Regions from separate parts of the Homo sapiens genome. Here region 1 is linked to region 2. Evidence: fine-mapped expression QTL. Tissue or cell type: whole blood. Region 2 holds a variant in brackets; the other region holds the start of a gene. All regions are shown on one strand. Distances are from middle to middle.

Evidence for each region. PIP is the estimated chance that this variant, and not a neighbour inherited with it, causes the effect.
Region 1: it holds the start of TP53TG1, and the variant in region 2 is fine-mapped to the expression of TP53TG1 in whole blood (TOPMed, PIP 0.93).

What each region holds. Positions count from the first base shown.
Region 1 is chr7:87,341,010-87,349,329 of GRCh38, reverse strand. TP53TG1 (TP53 target 1) reads left to right here and starts at 3,838. Exons shown (of 3, transcript NR_015381.1): 1 at 3,838-4,287; 2 at 7,646-7,807. It overlaps CROT (carnitine O-octanoyltransferase), which reads right to left and starts at 3,666. Exons shown (of 18, transcript NM_021151.4): 1 at 3,563-3,666; 2 at 2,900-2,990; 3 at 147-282. The coding sequence starts at 261. RefSeq lists a silencer at 3,641-3,850 and an enhancer at 7,488-7,557.
Region 2 is chr7:87,152,040-87,160,359 of GRCh38, reverse strand. It overlaps DMTF1 (cyclin D binding myb like transcription factor 1), which reads right to left and starts at 7,907. Exons shown (of 18, transcript NM_001142327.2): 1 at 7,805-7,907. DMTF1-AS1 (DMTF1 antisense RNA 1) reads left to right here and starts at 7,867. Exons shown (of 2, transcript NR_136253.1): 1 at 7,867-8,058. RefSeq lists a silencer at 4,367-4,496 and enhancers at 7,712-8,273, 8,119-8,320, 8,274-8,320. The variant T/C (reference allele first, on the strand shown) is at 3,734.

The DNA of each region.
Region 1 (8,320 bases), 190 kb before region 2:
AACTCACCTTGAATTCCTTCCTGCAAGAGATCCAAGAACTCTAACTCTCTCTTAGAGTCTGGATCGAGACCCCTTCTCCAGCAACAGTATCACAGTTTTCTAAGTTACTAATAATATTAATATATACTAAAAGATTATTAACATACCTGATTCAAGGTATTTTTTTAATGATTCTTCAAGTGAAGGAACAGGCAGTGATGGAAGAGAATCCTGGTACTGAAATGTTCGTTCTTCAGTTGATTTAGCCAATTGATTTTCCATGATAAAATCACAATAGGAAACCTAAAGAAAAGAGAGAGAGCCCTCACAACTTCAATCTCATAGATAGTGTTACGTATCCTAGGTACAATTCACAATTCACTAAACCAGTATTTAGGGACCACAGCATATCTAGGACTTGGTACCAGCTTTTATGAAATTTATAAATCTGTCAGATAGAGAAAACCAACTTAAAAAGAATGTGTAGACACAAAGTGCTAGAAGTAAAGAGTGATCAGTGGGACTGGTATAATTAGTTACCATTTATTGAACACCTAGCATTTGCCAGGTACTCCAGTTTGCATTACAGAAAACATGTGTTAGCTCTCTAACTTTTATGTTATCTCTGAAAGGTGGCATTCTTTGCAATTTTACATATGAATATATCAAAACTCAGAAATTTAGTAACTTACCTAATGTCAAACACAGGACCCAAACCCAGATCTGTTAAGACTACAATCTTTCCCCTATACAAAACAACATGATAGAAGGTAAGGGAACCTGCAGTAAATCTTAGTGGGTAGATAGTATTTGATGTATAGAAAAGGATTATGTGTTGATATTGCATTGATATAGAAAACTTTGGAGCACAAAGTACAAAGAGGTGTGGAAGTGTCCAACTGTAGAATTAAAGATTATTATAGAATACATAAATCATATGACAAGCTGCTTTAATTGCACAGGTCGTATGAGGTCTACACAGAATGGTCTCAAGTGTTCCAAAGCAATCTTGAACATATTGACACGTGTATTAATTGCTATCAAAGAAATCTAACTCAAAATGTGAATAAGGTATACAAATGCTAAATAAAAAATGAGGTTTCTCAAAGCCTTTGTAAATTATCATATATTAATTATATTAAATAATGTAATATATTAAATGTAATTATATGTTAAAATAGCAACTGAGAAATCAAAGAACGTTAATATTGAATTTGAACTTCCTATTCTCTCAAAAACTATTTTTTAAAACTGATAGCAACGCTAAACAAAGTATTCCACTCATAGGTTACAGAATCGAACACTATCAAAAACATGGACACAGAAGAGACTATTTTCAGCTAATACCTGTTTTCCTCTGCTTTAACAGAATCCTGAGTTGTAGCTGTGCATACAGCCCCCAGTTTTATCTTTCCTACCCTCTCTTGGAGCTCAGTGTGGCTTTGTGATGACCTTGTGTGTGTCACTTCCAGGTCATGCTCCCAAAAAGGAATGCATGTGTTCTCCCTGCACTTTCCCTCCTTTTTACTACCTGCTAGGTAGTGACGAACTAAACAGCACCATGGCCTCATTTATGGAAGTCATATATGCAGGATTGCAGAATCTCCCTACTAGTCCTGGACTCCTACCTCTAGATGTATGGAAAAAAAAAAACTTCTATTTTATTCATACCATTGTATTTTGGGCTTTCTATTGTAGGGAGAAGAGCTTAGCCTGTACCACTAATATAAAGAGATAATTTGAAAATGAGAAATAATAATTAACTCAAAGTTCTTTAGCTTCTTTCTATCTATTGACTTTGGCTGCACACCATTTTGACCATCCATAAAAATGGGTTTGTACCTAATGGAAATGTAGATCTGGATCCAAGTACAGACTCTGCCACTTTCTAGCCATGTGCCCCTAGGGCAACCAACTTTAAGTGAATTTCCTTATCTTAGAGTGGTTAATCATACAATTCAATAAAGTCAGAATTTGTTTTCAATGCCTGTGAAAGCACATTATAAAAACAAAATAATCCTGCCTGAAACCACCATATTGTGGTAGGCACAATTACTATGAATGGCCCCCAAGATTCCACCCCTGCTAATCCCCAGAACCTGCGAATATGGTGAGATCATTACTCCTGTGATTGTGATATTCTCTACAGAACTGACCTTAAAATAGGGATATTATCGAATTGGAACTAATCTAATCACTTGAGTCCATAAGAGCAAAGAGCTTTCTCTGGCCAGTGGCAGACAAGTAAGACTGCTTTAATGCTTGAGAAGGATTTGTGGTGTCTTTGAAGATGCAGATGGCCTTAAAGAACTGAAAGAGGCTCAGGCTGACAAACAGTAAGGATATAGAAATGTCAGTGTGAATTCTACCAACAATCTGAAATAGCCTGGAGGTGGATTCTCCCCTAGAGCCTCCAGAAAAGAATCCAAATCTACAGAAACCTTGGTTTCGGTTTTGTGAAATTCTAAGCCAAGTACTCAGCTAAGCCCACCCAAACTTCACATTTACAGAAGCTATGAGATAATACATTTGTGTTGTTTTAATTGTTGCATTTGTGTAATTGGTTAAGGCAGCAATAGAAGACTAGTACACACATACAGAGAAGATAAGCTATTCTGTTTACCTCTGTGCCACTTAATAGACTCTAGAAAACTGGAAGCAAGAGTATTAGTTACATACCCACTATAGTGCTTAACCCACCAACCGGTACACATTAAAAATATAAATTATTGGATTCTTTCTTGAAGAGTTTTCTTGAATTCTCAACCACAAAGATTAAGTTAAATAAGATGGTTCCAATAGCACTAAGAAAATGATTATGCTAGATTTAATTAGAATTGACTTTCTGGGGGCAATTAGATATGAATTCACAGAAAGTGGAAAAGAACCACGAACAATACGTGAAGGAATTGTCACATACCAGTACACCAAGAAGATGAACTGCTTGAGACTGCCAGGAGCCTGCTGCAACAATTGTTTTGAGATCACAGGGAACTGGACTAAGTCGGTGACTGTGGGAAGAAAGAAACAAGCTTAACAAATATTTAAGAGGGAAAAAGAAATGAACAAGCTAGTGAAAGAAGGTGGAATGCAGACAAACTAGGAGTTGGGAGTTCCCAAGACAAACTTTTCGTGAATCACTGCAAACACACGCAAATAGTCCACCTGCTAGAGAGCAGGAGTAAATGATCATACAATTAAGTAGGTTTCAGACAAGTACACCTTCCATTAGACGGGTTCAAAGGGTAGAGGATACGTTTTCAGTGGCTGGGTAACAGGTTCGTCGCAGAGTGGCAAGGGGTAGAAGCAGGAGCAGAGGGCAATGAGAGCTCGGAGGCTCTTCCCACCAACCCAAGAGCAACTCTGCACTCAAGAGGCCATCAAGTGAGAGAAATCTAAGCACTACAACGGAGCAGCCCCGCGGCCCAACCTTGAGGGTACCCCTGAGACCCCAGCAGGCGAGATGCTTGATGACACTACTCCCCCACCAAATCCAGGCACCTTTGCGGTTCTGCACGACTTAACTTTCCCCCGCCCCCGAGTTGAAGGATTAGGGGAGGGAGGGAATGCTGCTTCAACGGACCTGTCCGTCCTCACCGCCCGCGCCTCGCCGCCTCTGCCGCAGCCTCAGCCTGCAGCAGCACCGGCTCGCTCCCCCTTGGGCCTCAAAGGTGCGGGAATTGGACTGAAGGCCGCTAGGGTCCCGCCCCGCATTCGCCGGGGAACAGGATTGGATAGAAAGCCGCGAGGGTCCCGCCCCTCACTTTCCGGGGAACGGGACTGGACGGACAGCTGCAAGGGTCCCGCCCCGTGCCTGACGTCGGGGGCGAGCCGGGCCTGCGCGGTAGTGGGACCCGACCCTGTCTCCAGTGGGCGTCTTGGGCCCCGGCTCTATTCTGGGCTGCGGGCCTGGGAAGGGCTCGCCGGGTGCCAAATGAGCTGTCCTAACTCTGCGGGGCTGCAGCTTCCTGCATGATGCTGGGGAGCTTGGCGCCTGACCCAGGATCTAGAAGGCACTCTGGGCAGGCCGCGCTCCGCCCACGAAGGTACCCAACCCTCTGGGATAGATGCAGGAAGCGATGGTTAAGACCCATTTTCACCCAACTTCTCGCCGCAGGTCTGGCTTACCACACGCTCCTCCCCATTCCCAGTGAGCCGCTTTTTGCAGCACCAGGCGAACACTTACACCAGTGCTTTGTAAAGGAATCTTATTGTCCACCCCGTGTCTTGGCAAAAGAACAGTGATCACACAGATTCCTACTTGGGCTCTTTCCTTTAATCTTCGGAGGCTGAGTTTGCCCAACTCAGGTATGCCGCAGCACACTACATCATCTCGGGTCTCCTTGCTCTTCTGCAGCTCTTCATTGCTACCCAAGTTATTTGAATACCCCAGGGATGCTTACCCCCGGGCCTATCTGATGTCTTTTACTGTTGTGCCAAGAAATGGAATCTTTAACCAGAGTGGAGCTACCCAAGTTCTAGAAGATCATAATGTGATTGACTTAGTTTCACAGATTAATTCATTTTGCTTTTACCTTCTGAAATAAAATATACTGTTTCATTTTTAATTTTAAATACACTGTTTCATTTTTTTGTGGAAGGAAAGACCAAATGTTTACACTGACTCTGAACTAGTTATCAAAGATAAAGATTTAGATTTCAAATTAACATGTCATGACAGGCCCCATTCCTTTGTCTGTCGTTTCTAACTCCTTTAGCAGTAAAGTTTGACCTGAAGGGAAGTGAGGCTATGTGTAACTGAATGTTCCCTTTGTGTAAATATTCATAAGTTTTCTACAGAAATATTGTGTTTGATTACAGTACAGCTTGCTGGAAGTGTTTCATAATATATGGCAGACGTACTATTCTAAGAAAAGTTCTGAATTTTGAAACATATCTAGCCAAAAAGATTTTAAATAAGGGATTAGGAATTTGTAGTTGTAATTTCTGAAGGTGTGATAAAGAACTTTTTCTTTCATATATAAGTGCGATGCTCTGGATGATGTTAAAGTTTGCTTACAAGATAAAGTTTTTAAATTGAGTAACTAAAAACTACTCAGAAACCTTCGTTGTATTTTTTTTCTCCTTTTTAGTGAGTCTTGGCATCTCTTTAAAAGTTTATGCATGTTTAATGCCTGTTGGTGCATAGAATTTAGAACCATTTCGCTTCACTCTTTTTCCTACTCTTGTTGTTTATTTCAATGGAAACAAGATGTTTCTGTAAAGATTCCTGAATTATCGGATAGACAAAAAGGTGTGGGAGTGAAAAAATGAATGGAACACAGATTTGAGTATGTAGAAAAAAATCTTTTAAAATATGTTATACTGATAAGCATATGTACCCCAAATCACCAAAAACAGGTATTTTAAAATATGTTTGGCTTCAAAATGTGTGATATATATTTTAATGAAAGATTCCAAATTATGTTGCATTCAGGTTAAACTTGAACGAGTTTGCATTTCTTAGAGTGGAGCGGGAGATATTGGCTGGTAAGGAAGATGTTTTAGGCACTTGAAGTATTTGTGATAGCAAGAAGTTGTTCCAAGATTAAAAATTGACTATGAGTCAAAGTAACTTTTTGGAGGAAAATTTGTAAGTAGTACAAGTGGTGATAATTTTTTAAGTTGCCATTAAAAAAATCTTTTATTTTTGTTCTTCTGTAGTTCTTACTCAGCATACCACAAATTGCAAAAGACTTTATAGATAAGTCTAGATAAATTTCACCATTAAAAAGTATTAAAATGCTAGACTAAGAAGTTCATGTTTCAATCTGCATAACTGGCTTCCTGCTAAGATTTGTGACTCTAATAAGTAAGGAGATATGGTAAATAGCCCTAATCTATGGGAGACCTGTAACCTCCTTTCATTCTGATGTATAAAATGAACATGTTGAAGAAATAATTTTGTGATGTTTCTTCTTTTTAATGGGGGGGCAGTAGAAATATGGTCATTTTGGGAAGCAGCCAACAGCAAATTAAAGTACACTGGACGCAAAGAGGGCAATGTAGCATTAAAAATGAACTCCACTGCCAACAGCAGATGAACAGTGTTTGATACAAAAGGTCTCTTTTTAGTACTAATCATTGATTTGGGGTTGCTTTTGATGATATTTACAGTACATGAAAAGTTGCCACCAAAATCTGAGGGGAAGAGTTAAGATAACTATGATGTTTTTGCATCTCAGAAAAAAATACCTTCTTACTAAACAAAATATAACATTTAAAAATTTTGTTAACATCTTTGTTGAAATATAATTTACATACCATAAAGTTCGGCCATTTAAAGTCCACAAATCAATGGTTTTACTATATTCACAGGGTTATGCAGTCACCATAAGCTAATTTTAGAACATTTGGTTCAAATATTTAAAAAGATTATTTTCTACATACTCAAATCTCTGTTCCACTCATTTTTTTCAGTCCCACAACTTTTTCTATATCCAAAAATCCAGGCATCTTTACAGGAACATTTTGTTTCCATTGAAATAAATAACAAGACTGGGAAAAGAGTGAAGCAAAGTGGCTCTAAATTCTGTGTTACCAACAGGCATTAAACATGATTCATCAACTGACTGATGAATGTATGAACCACTTTTTGTTTGTCCATTCATCAGTTCATGGACATTTGGGTTGTTTCTACCTTTTGTCTATTTAAATAATGGTACTATAAACATTTGTGTACAAGCTTTGTGTGAACAGGCTTTCAATTAGTATTTTAGGAGTGGAGTTGTGGGGTCGTATGTTAACTCTATGTTTAACATTTTCAAAAACCGTCAAACTGATTTCCAAAGGAACTGTACCGTTTTTACATATCTGCCAGCAATATGAGTTTCAATTTCTCTGTGCCTTTAGTTACAATAACAATATAACAGCCCTTGCTATTGTCTTTTAAAAAAAATACAGCCACTCTAATGAATGTGAAGTGGTGTCTTGTGGTTTTGATTTACATTTTTTTGTGAAGACTAAGAGTGTTGAGTATTTTTTCATGTGCTTATTGGCCATTTATATATCCTCTTTGGAGAAATGTTTATTAAGATCCTTTTCCCATTTTTTAATTAATGCACACATTTTAAAATTATATTAAAATTAGGCAATGGTCTGACCATAAAAAGGCTGCTTATGGAATACTGTTATGTTAAACTTCACTTACAGGATGCTAAATCCTTAGAACTGAGGTTTTCCCCAGAAAAAGATTAATGGAAACATCAGTTGCTTTTCAGACTTGATTCTGCTTCAAAAGATGATTTTACACAAATAATTTTAAAAAACTTTAGTACACAACGAATCACTTTTAGTTTGGTATGCATCCACATTTCAGCATTTAGTAGTGGTCCTGAACAGAAAGTGAAAAACACAGCAATTTTTCCAGGAGGTCAAGTCTGCCAATTTCAGGGATCTGCTGTGTACCCCAATTTCTTTCTTAATCCCTGCTGAGGATCTTGAGAAGCAGGAGCAGCACCAAAACCAAGGCATGCACTGGATCCAAGGTTCTTTTTGTTCCAGTTGTGAGATTCCAAACTAGACCCCAGTGGATTGCAAGGATGACCAAATGAGAGCCCTGCTTAAAACTTCTTCAATTTTTAAAAGCGAAAGCAATTACAAGAAAATGAAACAATGCAGAGGGATCATATGTGCTTTCAAGTGTCTTCATGTGCTCTTTCTCCAGGTTTAACCACCAAGGACTCTGAGAGCTGGCAGGTCTGAGTAACCCTGGTAACAATTCTCTTCACCTTATCAAAACCTGAGCTAAAACCAATGCATCAGCTGATGATGACAGCAGAGAGTGGCAGGGCTGAGGACCCAAAGTCATTTCCCAGGCTGGCGGAGAGTGAGTAAATGAGATTCTAAAACTAAACAAGGGAGGTCAGAGACTCTTTCCAACCTTACCTGATGGCTTCTGGCCAAAGCAAGGAAGTGTCTTGGAAGGTGTTGGTTGGTGATGGTGCGAAAAGACACTTGAGAAGGAGGGAAGAAAAAGCAGCGCCCCTTGATAAAGGTGGGGGAGAGAAGATATGGGGAAAGCCCTGAATTCCTCATCAAAGGCCAATCTCAGAGAGTAGCAGGGGGTTACAATCTATGCTTTGGCCAAGGGCGGGAGTGGAGGAGTGGGGGTTAGGATGATGGCTTGGAGCGGGCATCATTTAAGACTTAAAGAAACCATGGGTGCAGGCAAAGCACCCCACACACTAAGCAGTAGTCCCACAGGCTGCGACCTGAAACCTTCACATCTACTCTTAACAAGCCCCCATGGCTAGAGGGCTGTTGCAAGGGGAGAAGGCAGAGACCCCAGACCATGTAATCAACAGCAAGGTGATTGTGTGATGTGTCTTTTCCCATATTT
Region 2 (8,320 bases):
GAAGTTGCAGTGAGCCAAGATCGTCCCATTGCACTCCAGCCTGGAGGACGAGAGTGAGACTTCGTCAAAAAAAAAAAAAAAAAGAAATGACAAACTACTGATACTTTTTTCACGAAGTTTAGCTTTCAAATTAGAACAAAAGGACCAAGTGCAATCAAGACAGTTGTTACACAGAATACATCTGTATTCTGATGTTGGACTAAGAAACGGTGGTGAATAAATCAAAATAAATCAAATTGTGATAGTAGAGTAGAAAGTTTAGTAATTTAGTGCCTTTATTCCAATTCATTATACATGAACCTATGGTTAACAACTTTTGGAATCCCTCCCCATTTGGTTTATCTGGAAAACAGGAAAATCGCCAACTCTGCTATCACTTTTTTGGTCCTTTTTGGAGCAAAATAAAGACAGTCATGTAACACGTAACATTTTGGTCAACAATCAAATGTGCATATATGGTAAGCCTGAAAGATTATACCACTATATTTTTACTGTACCTTTTCTATATTTAGATATGTTTAGATACACAAATACTTGCCATTGTGTTAACATTGTACTCAGTACAGTAACACGCTGTACAGGTCTGTGTATTTTCTATGATGCTCACATGCAATCACCCAAACTGCATTTCTCAGAACTCTGTCATTAAGCAACACATGACTGCACATCAGCTCAATTTTCCTTCTTTGTAATGGGTTATACCATATGTACTATTTTTACACTAAAAACGAGAAGATACAGAAGAAAAATAAACACAATTTTAACAGCCATTTTAACTGAAGTGGCATTTTTGCATGTTTTCATCATTTGCTGTGTATCTTTAAATAGCACAATACCTTAGCACGTTAAAGAAAAAAATACCTGAGGGTAGCAGCAAATCCAAATGCAGTTAGGAAAACCATGGACGATCTGCTTGAGATTTCAAGAATTTTGAATAGATGTGAAAATTCTATTGGTGTACAGCTTTATGAACAAGGAATTCAGCTTTATCATCAGTTATTAGAAAGCTGTGCAAGGAATTAAGTTTTATCCATAGCTTTATCAGTGGAGAGTGGCTTACAGAAAGAACTATCAGATGTGTTTAAATTTTAACAGCCCTAATGTTTTGGCATTGCTGTTATTTATGCACTCCTTATTTATAGCTTTGATAGCTTTAATTTTCTAGTCTTATCATGTGCCTGACAAATGTAGTTATATGCCTTACTGACATTTCCATTAAAAACTTTAATTTTGAATTATTCATGCATAACTATGGAATTTGTTACACTGGGCTGAAAGTTGACAGGATTTCAACCACCATCTGTAAATTTTTATTTAGATTATGTATCTCATAATCTTGTTTTTTAAAAGAACAGGGGAAACATTTCTTGTAATCTGCTGTTTAACAAATAATAGTTTTTTAAAGTTAGGCAGTTTACAGTGAGCCAGATCATTTTTGTATTGATTGAAAAATACAACTTTTAGAAACTTAGGTTTCAGTATTAACGACAGCATTTAGCTTAGCATTACTTGTTGTTTGAATCATTTAACTCTAAGGAAGACACTGGTTAAGAATGTTTTCTAAGTTTTATACCCTATAAATGAAGACCTAAAAAAAGTATAAAATGAAATACAGTGAAATGTACAAAATTCCAGTTGACTTTTATTACCTAAAATTTAAATGTGTACTTAATAAATCTTGAGTGATTACTTGATAAATCACTAGATAGGTGGTACGTTTCAACAGTTATTTAATGCTTTCTGAAGAAATAATTTCTGGTCATTAAAAACTAATCATGTTCTGCATCAAGAATTATGGCTTTCTAAAATTATTATAACTCTTAAAGTTTTAACTCATTGATGACTCAAGAATAAATTTTAGAAAACTTAGGATAGCATTCTGTTCCTGTAACAATCTCAATGAAGTTTTTTTGCAAGACTAAAATGTATTTGATTTATTCCTTAAATTTTAGATTTTGTTAGATGCCATTTAAATAATGGTACAGAATTCACTCCTTAGAAGCATTTTTTCAGACAAGCTGAAGTGGTTTTAATAAGACTGAGTACTATTTAAATTACCTTTTAGAATTATTTTAATCATTGAGTTTTTAAACATGTGGCATCTTTACCAAGTACATTGGAACGTTTATTATTGACAGAACAGGTTGGGATACAATAAGGACTTGGGATAAGTCATTTCATTAATAATCAATACAAATGCTGTGCGTTTTAATTTATAAAACCATACAGAACACCTTCTGCCAAACTTCAAAATTTGTATATACTTCTGGGCCACAAAAGTTGATAGTTTTATTTATGACTACTTAGATTGTTATTTATGCATGAAACAAGGCAGGAAAATACATTGAGAATTATGTTTACAGTGAACTTCTTTAATGCATCATATTTCTTAAAACATACTTTTAATGTGTACTTAGTATTTTAAAAACCAAACAAAACAATTATACAATTGCAGGTTTGTACATGTTGTCAATGACAAAAATAAAACCATTCTGGTGGCTTAAAAAAAAAAACACATAACCTTAAGTGTGGTACAAAACTCTTATAATGGAGTTATTGTGTCTTCATTATAATATAACCTTATAGCTCCCAATGAAAAAGATGAACCTATTTAATATACTATAGCCTGGAAGAACGAAAAGGGATAAGCATAAAGAAATAACTCTTGGATCTGTTATTTAACACAGAATTCAATTAAAGAAATGAGTTATTCATGCTATTCTTCCTTTCAGTATTGATGTAAAGTTCTTATCCAATGGGTTATCTTAGACTGGTATTTCCATCAATTGAGTCTACCTATCGTCCTGATTTTTCTGGGCATTTAAGTGTTGAATATCTTCTAAAAACCAGAATCAAGGAATAAAGTCACCTTTCTTCCCAGTTTTGGGGGCTAATTCTGTAAACAGCTGTATACTCATTTCCAACTACAGTACTGATACAAGTATGAAAGAGTTTAGATGCTATTAGTGGCAATCATGAGCAGCACAGGAACCAACATTTGCTGACCCTAGAGGCTTGGAGCTGTGATTCTAAAATGGAACATGGGATGAGACCACATGATATAAAACATTCCCTATTTTAATACACTCACTTTATACTGTGAAATCTTGCAAGCTACAGAACATATAGCACCACAATTTTGTTAGGTGAGTTAAAGACTGAGAAACACAGGCTGAGAAACAGTCTCTGGCATAGATCAACTAATAAGGCAGTAAGGACAGTTTTCAGATGTTTTTTTCTCCTGACCCAATACAGTATAAGAAAAATCATTCATGTTCTTTCTATGTGATTTGCAAGTCTTCTACCCATGTTATCAGCATGCCTATCTTTTACTGTTTTCACAAGATCATACTGTCACACTTTTTTGTACTTACTGTATCAGGAGCATTTTCCAGTATCATTACTACTTTACATTTTGAATGAGCACATAGATCTAAATTTATCTAATTCGTACCTATTACTCAACATTTTTGTAGCTATGTTATTATAAAACTCCAAATGGACTATTACTCTATCATTGTATAACTAATGCTTTAAAAACTACTTAAAAGAGAATTTGCTTAGTAACGTCTAAGGAATTTGGAAGATAAATTTTAAGATATGTTTATTTTGAAATAATGAAAGTCTGCTTAGTAGAAAATCTTAGTGGAAGATAATAGGTAACAAATTCATACATCCTAAACATGGGTACACAGAGGGCTGTCAGACAAGAGGTAAGGTCATAGAATAAGCA[T/C]AACATCTTCATAAGCACAAACTTTATTCAAGATACGAATAGGAACACTACACACTTGAAGAAGAATGTTTTGGACTATGGTGCCAGGCCCCGTGGGATTTGTTCCTCTATATACTTTGTGGAAAAGTTTGAGCAGCAGAGCCATAAATGAACATAAGGCATATTCAATTAAGGTACCTAATTAATGTTTACTATGGCTTGGTTTTAAGATGGTAAAATATGATTATATATCATAAAAATGTCAACAGAGCTGTTAGTGGAGTCTATTCTAGCAGGCTTTGTTGATTTCAATTACCAACTATTGAAAACAATGTCACTATTACTTGAGTAAGGAGGATTACTTAATAGCAAGGATTTTAAGGTGCAGCATTTCATATCTGGTTTGACAATAAAACTATATTGCTTATTCAAAAAGCAAAAATGTTATTTTTCACTTCATGCATGGTTCAGGAGCTTACAATGTGTTATTCGCCACACTTGAAAGATTTCATCCTTTCAAAACTGAGTACTTTTCTACAAGGCACCATCAGAGGCTCTTTACATGGACATATACAGTATCACCAGACACCTGTGATTTACAGTGAAGTTAATTTTTAAAGCACATTTACTCATTAGATACTAAAATATACACCGGCACTAAAATAAACCTAATGAGCATTTCTGATACGTAACACCTGATGGGAAGTGAATGAATCAGCTTTGACCACTGGTGCTTGGAAGAATGACCTAACAGTGTACATAATCAAAATGACATTTAAATATATGAAATGATAGAAAATTAAACTGTTCATAATGAGCTCTCCAGTGTGCTTTTCTCTGACAACTTATTTCTAGTACTCAGTCATGGAATGGATTATCTTTCTACAAACTTGGGTGGGGCGGGGGTGGGGTGGGGGAGACACAACCACGTTCCTCCTTTTATTTAAACTTATCTACCTTTATAGAATCAAAGCAAACACAAAATCTATTTGTGATTTCTATTACAGGAATTTTCTTCACAAAATGAAAGCACCATCAAGATAAACGGAGAAATGACATGAAAGTAAACAAACGCCACATACATTTGGTAACTATCCATATTTTATCTTTAATATTTGGCAATTACTTTAATAAAAATCATTTAGTTTACCACTTTCTCGGGTCTTCTTGTATCATTTGGAGACATAAAGGAGCTGCAATTGCAAAGCATTTAAAAGTATATCAATTCCTAGGAAATCCTTTCATATAGGAAAAATATGATGGTGGTAAGAAAAAAAATGGACTATTAAAATGGAAAACTCCATTTTGGAAAGGCAGAACACCACCTCAGTGTTAAATATGCAGTCTCTACATAAGATATAAAAAAAAGTAGAATGAACCCTCCTTAAACTTTGTTCCTTTCTAAGCTTTTGATGTCTTTGCAACAGACAGATGTGTGTTTAATACAAGTGATGCAAGACGTCAATACTTTCAAAAACACTTCTAAGCTCCCTCAATATTTTAACATCTATGTGCCAGGCAGTAAATCCTTAGGAATACTTGTTTCACATTATCCCATTCATCCTCACAGGTGTTAATTTAAGCCAATGCACTTAATGAAGCATGGCAAAGGCAACTGTTTAAAATAATGAGATGTTATTTTCAGGACATGTAAGTTTATTACACCATTAATAAAAATTAGAGTCTGTAGATTTTGGAGAGATAAATGAGGCTAATAGAAAGGTAAGATTTTTTGCGGAGGAGGTAAAGGCAAGTTTTTTGTTGTTATTTAAATACTAACCAGTGATATCAAACTAACCTTATAAAATACATACACTATCTCCCCACCTTTAAAGCACCCCTGGGGTGTAATGAGATAACTAAAGGATTGAAAAAAGAGATCTCTAAAAAAAGGACTAGAGGACAGCTATCTACTTTTGATATGAGTCTCCACCAGTAAACATTTCCCAACCATGCTGTTTTCAAAGCTCAAGTCATAACGCCCAAACTTTGATTTCTTCCCCTCAAAATACTTCTAAAACCTGAACACTCAGAAAAATGTTTACATAAAATAATGTATTCATATAACTGCAACGTATGAACTTAAAGTTCTAAGAAAGATGCAATGCCCAGTACTTACTGATTAAATGTTGATGAAGACAGGGCAATAGCATTTTGGCTCCACCATTAGCTCAACTGCAACCAATTAAAGAGATTCACGCAGAATATGCAGGTGCTAAATCAGTCCCCAAAAGCATATTTTGGGGTGAGCCTATCAACTAAAATAGTAAGAAAAAAAATTAGCTTGTTTGGTGGCATACAGAAGCACCTAGTATCGAGAGTTAAAATGAGATAAAAATCACCACAATCATGAAATGTATTTTTCACACCTGTAACATAATGGTTTTTTCCAGATACAATCAGGCTGGTTTTTGTGCTTTCTGTATGGAAGAAAAAAATTATTCTCACACCAAATTGGATTCTCTCAGCATGACAATTTTTGTAACGTTAAGGAATGTAGCTTTAACCTTTTTTCTCTAAATCTTAACAGAATTTCTAAATCCTAACCAAATACATGAAATCCTGTCTCTAAGTACACCATAAGAGCAAAAAGATAAGATTTTGGTGTATCGCCATAGTCATTCTTTAAATGTTAAAGTGATGGCAAATTATTCAAGTTATTAAAAGACAGTAATCCTCAGAAAGCTATTTGAAATATAATTTCAAAACCAGCTTAAAGAAATTTGAAGTAATGAAAAAACATGAAAACCCTTAACTGAAAAAAACAGATTTTGCAATACTTTCAACATAGTGGAAGAATATTTTCGTATTTGGAGCTTAAAAGCTACAAATGGTTTTCTCCCACGAATTAAAAATACAGGTATAATTTAAAATTTTCCAAATGGCGTCACTTTAAGCTTAAGACATGTCATATTAAAAAATAATTCCACAGAATATGCATTTTGTAGGACGTCCCAACATGCAGCCTCGACTGTCAGAAAGGAGGCACACATAATCAAATCCATGTACATTAAAAAGAGGTACACAAAGATGAATGAGTTGCGAAAAAAGCAACTACACAAATTCAATGAGAGAAAGGGAGGAGTCCTGACTCATACTGTATACTATTATCCTTTTCCTTATCTACACCGAGTATTTTATATAAAGACATATGCTCTATCATTCAATTGCACAAAAGGGCACTTGGCCACTTCTACTCTCAAATCTGCTCTGGAGATTGTGGTAAAACATTCTACATACCTCCCTGAAGAAATTCTCAAAGCGAAGTACATTTTAGAGAACAAAGTGGACTTAACAATTTTAAGAACTTTCTCGGAACTCGGCACAATAGGGTAATTACAACTTTACAGCCGCATTTTCCGTGCTCCACCAGGACTGTCCCCGCGCCCCAGCCCACATCCCTTCTTTAAAGAGAGTCAGACTGAGAGAGACGGTTCGGCCAGCTATCCCGATTCTCTATGTCTGGGCCGTGAATCGCCGAGCAAGGCTGAACCCCCGCAAAATTACAGAAGAATCTAAAGCGCAAACGAGGGAAAAGAACAAAAAAGCAAAGGGGGGGAAGTTGGGTCGAGACCCACCCCCACTCTCTCGACCCCACCCAAGCCTACCTCTCCTACGCTGGACCATAAAACAAAACCGAAAACGTAACAAAAATAAAAACTAAAAATAGAACACCACGAGAAAACAAGTAGGGCTTCCTTACTGTCTCCACTCCTTCTGGCCCAGTTCTCTACTCAACCTCCCGGCCCACCCCACCCCCCAGGGGTCCCGGCGCCATTTAGCTCCTCCGAAGCCGCCGCCATTTTCCGCCCCCGCCGGATCGCCGCTGTGCCTCGGCAGCCGCTCGCTTCCCTACTCTGCAGCCTGAGCCACGGGCACCGCCCGGCCCTAAGAGGGAGGCCCTGGCCGGAACGTGCGGGGACGGCAGCTGCAACGTCAGGAAGGCCAGGCTCCGACCCCGCCCGCAGTGCCCCGGCGCCGACAGCTTGCGCCAGCCGGCGGGAGCTAGCGGGCAGCAAGGGGGCCGGACAGGCTCCACTGGGCGGAGCGGCCCTGGCGGCGGTTGGAACCTGAAGGTTCCATCGCACTTACTTCCTGTTTTGGGTCCGGGCACTTTGGAAGAACCAGGATGGAAGCTCCAAAAAATACCAGGATGGAGGAAGCAGCCACGGGCGAGAGTGGCTGCAGCTGGAGTGAGCGAGCGCGACGAGCCACCGGAAACGGAGCTGCGGCCGCGCCCCGCCCCCAGCTCCCCGCACGCTGCCCCTCCCGCTCGTCTGTCCCGCTGGCGGCCCAGCGTGCTGGCTGTACGCGTCACTTCCGGCTGTGTCGGCGCGCGAAAAAAGGTCCTGGGTTGGAATGTTTGTACTGGTCTGTGGCGGTGGTTGTCGGCTGTCCTGCCAGGAAAACTCGGCACTGACTATCCCACTGCTGATGCTGTAAAAGAGGTCCTTCTGCTATGACGCAACTGTGGTTCCTCTGGTTCTGGGGACACTTAGGCCTCGCGTGCCGATTTTCATAGTTCCCTGTGGCTCCGAGCCGAGGGAGCCGCGGTGTGGAACGGAGGGAACCAGTGATCTCAGTGCTGAAGAAAACAGGGAGTGTGTG